2 separate regions of the Homo sapiens genome follow, and region 1 is linked to region 2. The links come from fine-mapping of genetic effects on gene expression. A gene starts in region 2. The other region holds a variant in brackets. All regions are shown on one strand. Distances are from middle to middle.

Region 1 (4,380 bases), 65 kb after region 2:
GAGGGGCTCCCATGGGGTTGCTGGCAGAGCGCTCCGCAGAGCCAGCCTCACCCTCCAGACACTGGTTTCTGGGGGTTTTCCAAAGGCAGCCTCTGGAGGCCTCCGCCTGCCCCACACATCACCGACGCCTGGGTGCTGCCCGAGGCATCACTGATGACCACAGGGCTGGGTCCCCTGCTTCTCGTCTGTCATCACTATTCCAGCCGCTCCGTGTTCAAGTGGACCGGCCCTCATCTCCCCCACCTTCCTTCTTCCTCCCCGACACTGCCTCCTCCCAGGGGCTCTGGCAGACCCCCGGTGGCTCCTGGGCACACTCAATTGTCCAAACAAGAACTGCAGCAAGGAATTAGAGATTTCTTAATCAGCCTCACCTCCCTCCCCTGAAGGGTGTATGGTCCCCTTTCCCCAAGACAATTTGCCACCAACCACCTTGGGAGTGGGCTTGATTTCTTTCTAAACATTGGCCAGTCATCAAGATCACAGAGTGAAAGGCGTTCACATCTATATTTCCTTAAAGGGATTGTACATACCCAGCTAATAATAATTTAGTAGGATTTTTTTTTCTTTGCCTTATGTAGACTCTGTTCTTCCTTGCAGCCCATTGAGAGCAATGATCACCATGACTGTTCCCTCACATGCAGCAGCAATGATTGTCCAAGATATACATGTTCACAGAACAAACTTTTATCATACAAGTTTTCTTTTTCTGAGAAATGTGAAGTTCCAGAATACCCTTATTTTTTTTATTTTCTTTTTTGAGACAGGATCTTTCTCTGTCACCCAGGCTGGAGTGCAGTGGTGCAATCTCAGCTCACTGCAGCCTTGACCTCCTGGGCTGAAGTGGTCTTCCTGCCTCAGACTCCCAAGTAGTTGGGACCACAGGTGTGAACCACCATGCCCAGCTACAAAATGTGCTTACTTTAAAGCAGTTTCCTTCCTTTGCGATGGTATTTTTTGGGGTAAAGCCTGACCTGGATCATTAGTGACTGTAATTTGCAGCCCTCTACAGTCTCTCTTTTTTTTTTTTTTTCTTTTGAGACAGAGTCTCGCTCTGTCTCCCAGGCTGGAGTGCAGTGGTGTGATCTTGGCTCACTGCAAGCTCTGCCTCCCAGGTTCACACCATTCTCCTGCCTCAGGCTCCTGAGTAGCTGGGACTATAGGCAGCTGCCACCATGCCCTGCTAATTTTTTTTTTTTGGTAGGTTTTTAATAGAGATGGGGTTTCACCATGTTAGCCAGGATGGTCTCGATCTCCTGACCTTGTGATCTGCCCGCCTCGGCCTGCCAAAGTGCTGGGATTACAGGCGTGAGCCACCGCGCCTGGCCTCTACAGTCTCTTTAATTAGGATCCTAAATGTTTCTCCCGTGGTCTCATCTATTTTAACCTAAAACGCCCTTGGGGAAAACCTTTTGTCACTGCAACACTTCAGAACACACTTACAACAGGAGGTTTTTTCCCGAGGGCCTGCAGCAATCAAGGAGGGCCGTTCTGCTGGGTTTCCTGTTTTGAGCGGGATTTGTGTTCCGGGAGGCTGGGTGCTTCCTCAGAACTCTGTCTGCTTTTCCTCAGTAGGTTACAGACATTTCAGTCTACTAACCCCCAGAAGAAACAGCGTGCTGTTAGATTTAGTTATATTATCACAGGTCATTTTAAGATTTTCATTCATTTAATGTAAAAATCAGCCCAGAATTTTATTTTCCGTAAGGTGCTTAGGAGAGCGTGGGCATAGCCATGAGACCTCCGTGTTGGGTTGTGTTTAAAGATGTGTATTCATTTCTCATCCTCAGCTTTTGCCTCAAGAGTTTAGCCTCTGTCAGGATTAATCGGGGTCAGATTATCCTAACACGGAGTGTTTTCCATTCTTTCAGAAATTATTGCAACACCCTGCAGCGTTCAGACTTGTCATGGATGACTCTAACAGGGCAGGTGTTACCACGTCAACTGGTCCAAAAAACAAAATACCGGGTGCACATCCCTTGAAGTTTCGGGTGTGTTTACTCTGAGGCACCGTGCACTGCAAAGCTGGGGATTCACAGGCAAGTTTAGGTGAATCCTCGGAACACGTGACTGATGAATTCCGGGCCCGTGTCGGGCTCTCAGCCAGCGCCTGCTCCGTGCGCCAGGGACGGAGTGCTGCCTTCTCGGGAGTCACACGGGACTGGCTTAGCCCTGGCGAGTGTTTCGCATCAGGTGACAAGTTGTGCCGAGTGTCTGCCACCCTGCATGCCCACACTGAATCCGTGCAGGGCCCTCCCGGCCGCCTGCTCAGCTGTGGACACGGAGCTCCGGCACAGCCAAGTCCTGAATGACATGCAGCCAATTCTCTTGGGCCCTTTCCGGGTTTGTCTGTGGTCCTTCCTTCTGTGTTTCCAGGCTGAGTCCTAAGGCCCTGGTCCTGTG[C/T]CCAGTGTGGTGCCTTGGAAGTTCTGAAAGTCACAGGTGAGCTGGGTGCTCCTGGGTGTCCCACCCCGGCTAGGGCTGTCAGCATCATGAGTTCTGAAGAACTGCCCTGAGGGCTGCAGCATCCCTGCGGGGGCTCAGACCGGCTGGACCGTAGCGTAGTTTCTGGCCCCGGCTAGCTGGCGACCGTGGGCCTCAGTACCCTGTCTGCGGGGTGGGGCGATGCGAACCTACACCCTGGGATGGGGGTGCCCGCCCAGGGCAGTGCTGTCTGTGATCTTGCCATGCCCAGGGCACCCACTCCATGACGCTGGCTGTCGGTGCTTTCCAGGGGCACAGTGGAGTGTGTGAGGAAAGACCCCTGCAGACGGCCTCCGGCGGGCTTCGGGCAGCTCTCCCTGGTTGGGGTCCCAGGGTCTTCAGGGAAGCCCCAAGTCCTGGTCCTGTTCATCTTTGTGTCTCTAGTGGACAACATGTAAGAAATGCTACTTAAGCTGACCTGTTAGCATATGTAACATAATGCCGGGAAAAGAGCTGTGGCTGAATTGAATGATTTCTTAAATTGATTTTATATTGTGTGCCCTTTGAAAAATGTTTGGGGAGAATTGGAGTTAAAGTTTTCAACACAGTGTGGTCCTTGCAGACTTCCTGTGGGAGGGAATGACTTTCTGTTCCTCTGCGTTAGCATCCAAGTACACTCTTATGGCCTTTTCGATCCAATAATCACAATCTGGTCTTTGTCAGCTTTTTTTCAGGCAGTGACTTGGGTTTGTTCACACACTAGAAACTTAACTCACAAATCTTTAGGGTGCTAGGGGTTATGAGCGGGTTGGGAAGTGTCCCCACGTGGTTCACACCTGCCCTCTCCATGCTCACGGAACCACACGCTCGCTCCATCGTTTGTTGGGGGTTCCGTCAAGTGCCAGGTCCTCAGCGGGGCTCCAGGGGTGCAGAAAACGTGCAGGACAGCTCCAAGTTCACAGAGTCCCGGGGAGCTGATCGGCCACCAGGGCCTCTCGGTGTGGAGGGAAGAGGGACCGGCCAGCCCAGCTGGTCCTGAGAGTGCAGCTAGCAGCTGCTGACCAGCCCCCAGGGGGCTCCCGGGACACTCCCATGAGCGTGAGGATGATGAAGCTTCTCCCTCACCACATCCCAAGTCTCCAGGACACCAAGGGAGATGAGGGCATTTTAGGTTCTGCTCCCAGCCCATGCCACGACTTCTGGGCCCGAGGGCATCCTGTGCTGTTTTGTGTGAAGCGGCACAAAACATCCCACAACCACTGGGAGACGCCTCTGTCCTGGAACCGCTGCGGCCGCTCTCCCCACCCCTGCCAGGCGGCTCGCAAAGGGCAGCTCCTTCTTCCCGTCTGGGTCCGCACCACGCACCCGCCCTGGCCTCCTGCCCGGGGACATGCAGAGTCACCATGCGCTCTGAAACAGCCCCTCGGCAGCTTCACGACCTCACCAAGTGCCCGCCGCTCTCACGAGAGAGGTGGTTATGGTTGCGCATTGAATATGCTTGGGAGAGGCAAAGATGGATGGCGTAGTCTCTACCCTCACACCCAGTGCTGAGCGCGAGTCGTCCGCTGTGTGTGCATCATCTGCTGTGCGTGTGTCATCTGCTGTGCATGCCTGCGTCATCTGCTGTGTATGTGTCATCTGTTGTGCATGCGTGTGTCGTCTGCTGTGGGCGCGTGAGTCATCTGCTCTGTGTGCTTGTGCCGTCTGCTGTGCCTGCGTCATCGTCTGCTGTGCGTGTGTCATCTGTGCGTGTGTCATCTGCTGTGCGTGAGTCATCTGCTGTGCGTGTGTCATCTGTGCGTGTGTCATCTGCTGTGCGTGCGTGTGCCCTCTACTGTGGGTGTGTTCATCATCTGCTGTGCGTGCGTTGTCTGCTGTGCGTGCGCCGTCTGCTGTGCGTGCGCCGTCTGCTGTGCGTGCGTCGCCTGCTGTGCGAGTCGTCTGCTGTGCGTGCGTCGTCTG
Region 2 (4,305 bases):
GGGGGTGGGGGTGGGGTTCTGAGGGTCTCGGCTGGGAGGCGCAAAGTTGAAGGCAGCCAAGGTGAGCGCCTCCCCTCTGTGACAGTCCGGGGACCCGGACTGGCGCGCCTACTGGGGCAAAAGTGGGCTTGGCAAATCGAGGGCCAGGGGCAGGGCAAGGGCTAGGGATGCCCCACTTACCAGCGAGTAGAAGGCGGACGCCTCCGAGCCGTAGGTCACGTAGTTGCCATAGCCCTGCGATCCGCCATAGGGACCCCCATAGACGCCCAGCGCCGCGGCCGAGTTGAGCTCGTGGCGCGCGGTGGCCAGCAGCCGGCTCTCGTAGACCGGGCAGTAGACCGGCGCCTGGGCCGAGGCGGCGGGCCCGGAGTCCGCCAGCGTGCGGCCTCCGGACTCGCAGCACGTGCTCAGGGAGTTGGTGGCCATCAAGAACTGCAGAGAGAGGCCGCGAGGACTGGCGGGAAGCCGGGCTGGAGGCTGGGGCCCTGGGCCTTGCCAATCCCGCGCGCCGCCCACGAGGGCGTGCCCCGAGTACCCCCGGGCCTCCCGCCGTCCACACCAGGATGCTCGCCCCTTTCCACTAGCTTGTGCGCGTCTGGCCTCCTCCGCCACGTGGGGCCCAGCCGAGCACCTACACCCTTCCCCGGAGGGTTTCCAAGGCCTCTGACGCCATTTGCGCGCCAAGCCTCCTTCCCCAGGGGTTCCTTGGGGTCCTAGGACTCCCCTGGGGCACAGCCTGAGCCTTGTGGTTCAAACATCAGGGAACCCGGGCCCGGCCCGTCGGATTTTCTTAGCGCCTCGGCCTTTCCCCGGGGGTTTGGGGAGCAGGGGTTGGGCGTGAGGGGCGCGCGACCCAGGCCTTGCTAGCTCGGAAGCCGCAGGCAGTCGTAGGTCGGACACTCCCCACCCCCCGTCCCCGCCCCATCCGCCCTACCGGCACCTGCGGTGGCCTGGGCGGGGCGGGGCTCCGCTTACCTGGGGAGCCGAGGAGTAGGGGTATCCAAACTGCGGGTAGGACATGGCGGGCGCGGCCCGGGGCGGACGGGCGGGGCCTGCAGGGTTCTGCGCGCTGGGGCCGGCGTGGCGCGGCCACTGCTCCGGAGCTGCAGGCTTCTAGGCGCTGGGAGGGCGAAGCAGGAGAGCCGGTTAGTCCATCCCCGCGCTCCGCAAACTTTTCTAACCGGGTAACAAAGTGAGCAGCGGTGGCCGCCGCGATTCCTTTAACTTCGCATTCCGGAGGCTCGAGGGGGCTCTGGGACCGAGCGGCCTCGCAGCGGCGACAGAAATACATATTTTACGAAAAAGAAAAAAAAAAAAACGAGTCGCGCGAACCCGTCAAGTCAGATGTGCGCGGCTTGAAGCGGAGGAGGCTCTGACGTCAGCCCCACCTCGCGCAGCCCGGCCTGGCCGCAGACTCGCCGGTCACTCGCCGGCGGCTCAGGCCGGGAGGGGCCAGGACAGTCCCGGCCGCGCGGTGGACGGAGGGGCCATTCCTCCGGGCGTTAGCAAATAAATTCCATCCGAGTCAATATCGCCCAGCGAACGGTGTTTCTCTTTAGTCACCCGAGAACGAGAGGCACTTTTAATTAGAAATTAATTAATGAGCAGCTGCTCCTTCCCGCCCCACTGTAATCATTCGTCTCAATTACAAATGAGACCTATGAAAGGACACGCTGAAGATGTAATCAACAGTTAAAATTAGCCCGGCGCTGCGCAGGCGGCCGGCCCGGCCTCGCGCTGGCGCGCTCTGCTCCGAGTGGCAGGAAGGGGCTCGCAGGCGCCCCGCACGCGTCTCGTCACTATTGTTTAATCGAGAATCAGCAACGCCTCCCGCCGGTTTCCACCCTACGCCGGAATGGACTTTCAGAACCCACTGCGGCCGCAAGACAGCCCGCAAGAGCTGGTCAAAATGCCCTCAGGTGCGTGGGGGCTTCGGGGCCTTAGTTGGAGCCCGACACCCTGAGACTGGCGGCCCGAGGGCTGTAGGGCCGCCCCGGGCGTGCGCCCACCGGCTTTGCACCTCTGGGCAGCCGAGTGTCGCGGAGAACGCCCCATCTTCTCCACCGCGGTCTTTTAAGTTCCCGCTCAGCCCACCGCCCCCACCTCGCCTCCCCGACTTTCCTCCCCGATCCCCTTTCCGCCGGCCGTGCTCCGCCGGCTTCCCCCTGCCCCTCGCGGCTAAGCCGGGGACTGCCGGGCGGCCCTGCGCGCTCGGAAGAGCAGGTTCCTCAACCCAGGCCCCGGCCCCTCCCGCTAAGCTCGTCCCTCCCGGCGCCCCGCAGGGCTGGCTGCGAGGGAGGGGGCGTTGGGTGCCTGGCGGAGGCGCCCTCCCCTGTCCATTTTGCCCAGCTTTCTGTCTGGGGCGCACGGAGCAATCGGAAGAGGGGACCGAGCGCCCACCCCAGGACTCCCTCGGCCAGTACCCTCCCTGGGACCTTGCCCAAGTTCAAAGCGGAGGCCAGTGAGCAGGCGGCAAGGGGGCGGCAAGGGGGCGCCCGGGCCATCCCGAACCCGTTCCCCGCCTTCTGCGCCATCGCCCTCCGGGACCGGGACTCGCCCCGGTTGCCCTCGCCCCCTGGGCCGGCCTCCCGTGGTAAGTTGGGAAGGAAGCCGTGCAAGGCAGCGTTGTGCAGACTTGCTCAGAAAGATTCCTGGGTTCAGACCTGTGAATCGCCCCAGGGTCACCCTCTAATTAATGATGACGTCCTCGCCCTCTCCCCAGCTGCAAGCCTGCCTCCCAGAAACGAAATCTGCCTGCTCTTTTGACAGCTCGGTTGAAGGTGATTGATGACTATCTGGAGACCACAGTACACATCATATAATATCTGCTGCGTAATTGCTTTAATTTACAGATGAAAATACGAGTTCTCCGATCGCGTTGGACCGGAGCGGGCCACGTCCGAGCTGCTTGCAGAGGGAAACCATCGGAAATAATGAATAGCCGCTCCATGCAAATTATTCAGACAGTTTAGCGTCGGTAGCCGCGAGAAATATATAAAGAACACGAGTCAAATGACATTAATAATTGTTTCTGAATTCTGTATTGATTTCGCGGCAGGCCGCGTTTCTTTCTTTCTCACCTGAATCGCTAATATCACCTTCCTGTAAATAATAAGAAACTAGCCACCGGGGTTTCTCGCTAGAAATGAATCTCTCAACCCCTTTCCCTCTCCTCCTGCTCCTCCCCTCCCCCACCCTCCTTCCTCCCCTCTCCCACCCTCCCTCCTCCCCACTCCTTGCAGTTTTCTGGTTTTTCCCGAGCATCCTTCTACTTCCCATTATTTATTGTTTACAAACTACTCGCTCTCTCCAGGTAATGAGGCCCGGCTGAAGGAGGGGTGTGAGCCCAGCCGGGCCAAGGGCTGGGATGGGGAGTAGAGACCCCCAGAGGGGAGGCATTCAGCTGTGGCTTGTCCTTTCCTCACCTATACTCGGGGACCTGGCCTCGGCGACTGTGAGCACTCCGCCGGCTGAGGGGGAGAGCCAGGGCCCAGGGGCCCAGCCACCTATGCCCTGCACCTCTGGGCTCTAGTGCAACAGCTCAGCCCACCCAGACCTGAGGCTGGTGCATTTCCTTCCTTCCAGACCCGGCGGGGCTTAACTGGAGCCGAAGCCCCAGAACAGGCGGCCATTCATCTTCTGAGCAGAGTCTGGGAGAAGCAGCCTCCACTTCCCAGGGCAGCCAGTACGTGGGGGCCCTTTCGGGGGCTTCCTTTGACCACCACCGCCACCTTCTCCTGTTCTCTTTTGCCTTTCCAGCCTGTGTGCATAAATCGACGCTCCAGTCCCCACCAGCGGGCGACCCTTTCTCCGTGACCCAGAAACCTGGCCTCTGAATCGGCTTTCCCAGGCCGCCGCACACACACGCTCCACTTCCTGCCCGCCAGCAGGCCCCAGCGCCTGGGGTCCGGGCCCAGTCACAGTCACCCTGCCTCGGGAAGCTCGCAACTGCCCAGGAGGCCTCCTGACCCGCCCGGCCTCACCCAGGCCCCACTACTCATTCCAGGACACAGGGTCAATCCAGCCTGTGGATTGGCGACCACCGGGACATCTCACTGAAACCCTGTAGCCTGGCCTAGGCCCGCCTGCCCAAACCGGGGATTCTCACTGGGCCACCCTTCTCCCATAGATAATACTGGAATATTTTCCAAGTGCCTTCACCAAAAGGCCAAGCCTGGAGCGGAGGCACCCAGTGTCCCTTTCACCAACGATAGGACGCTCAGCATCTCAGGTATCAGCTGAACGCGTCTGCATAGACTCGGAGTGCTGAGCCTTCCTCCCTCTAGGGACCCCCGGTACTAAATA

Direction of the effects. Positions count from the first base shown, and alleles are read on the strand shown. Sizes are in standard deviations (SD) of each study's normalised expression.
With allele T in place of C in region 1, the expression in esophagus mucosa of the gene that starts at base 1,706 in region 2 is lower (small effect, 0.27 SD a copy in GTEx).

What was found. PIP is the estimated chance that this variant, and not a neighbour inherited with it, causes the effect. A credible set is the group of variants that fine-mapping cannot tell apart.
Region 1: its variant is the best candidate, but not a certain one, in a credible set for the expression of IRX4-AS1 in esophagus mucosa (GTEx, PIP 0.58).

What each region holds. Positions count from the first base shown.
Region 1 is chr5:1,946,826-1,951,205 of GRCh38, forward strand. The region is part of intron 3 of LOC124901165 (keratin-associated protein 5-5-like); the gene reads left to right. The region is part of intron 2 of LOC105374618 (a long non-coding RNA gene); the gene reads left to right. Among named protein-coding and RNA genes, the nearest start is that of CTD-2194D22.4, 62 kb to the left of the region's middle. RefSeq lists enhancers at 1,908-2,409, 3,393-4,380. The variant C/T (reference allele first, on the strand shown) is at 2,401.
Region 2 is chr5:1,881,628-1,885,932 of GRCh38, forward strand. IRX4-AS1 (IRX4 antisense RNA 1) reads left to right here and starts at 1,706. Exons shown (of 2, transcript NR_183257.1): 1 at 1,706-1,919; 2 at 2,853-3,022. It overlaps IRX4 (iroquois homeobox 4), which reads right to left and starts at 1,298. Exons shown (of 5, transcript NM_016358.3): 1 at 976-1,298; 2 at 181-432. The coding sequence starts at 1,020. RefSeq lists enhancers at 2,162-3,014, 3,564-4,097.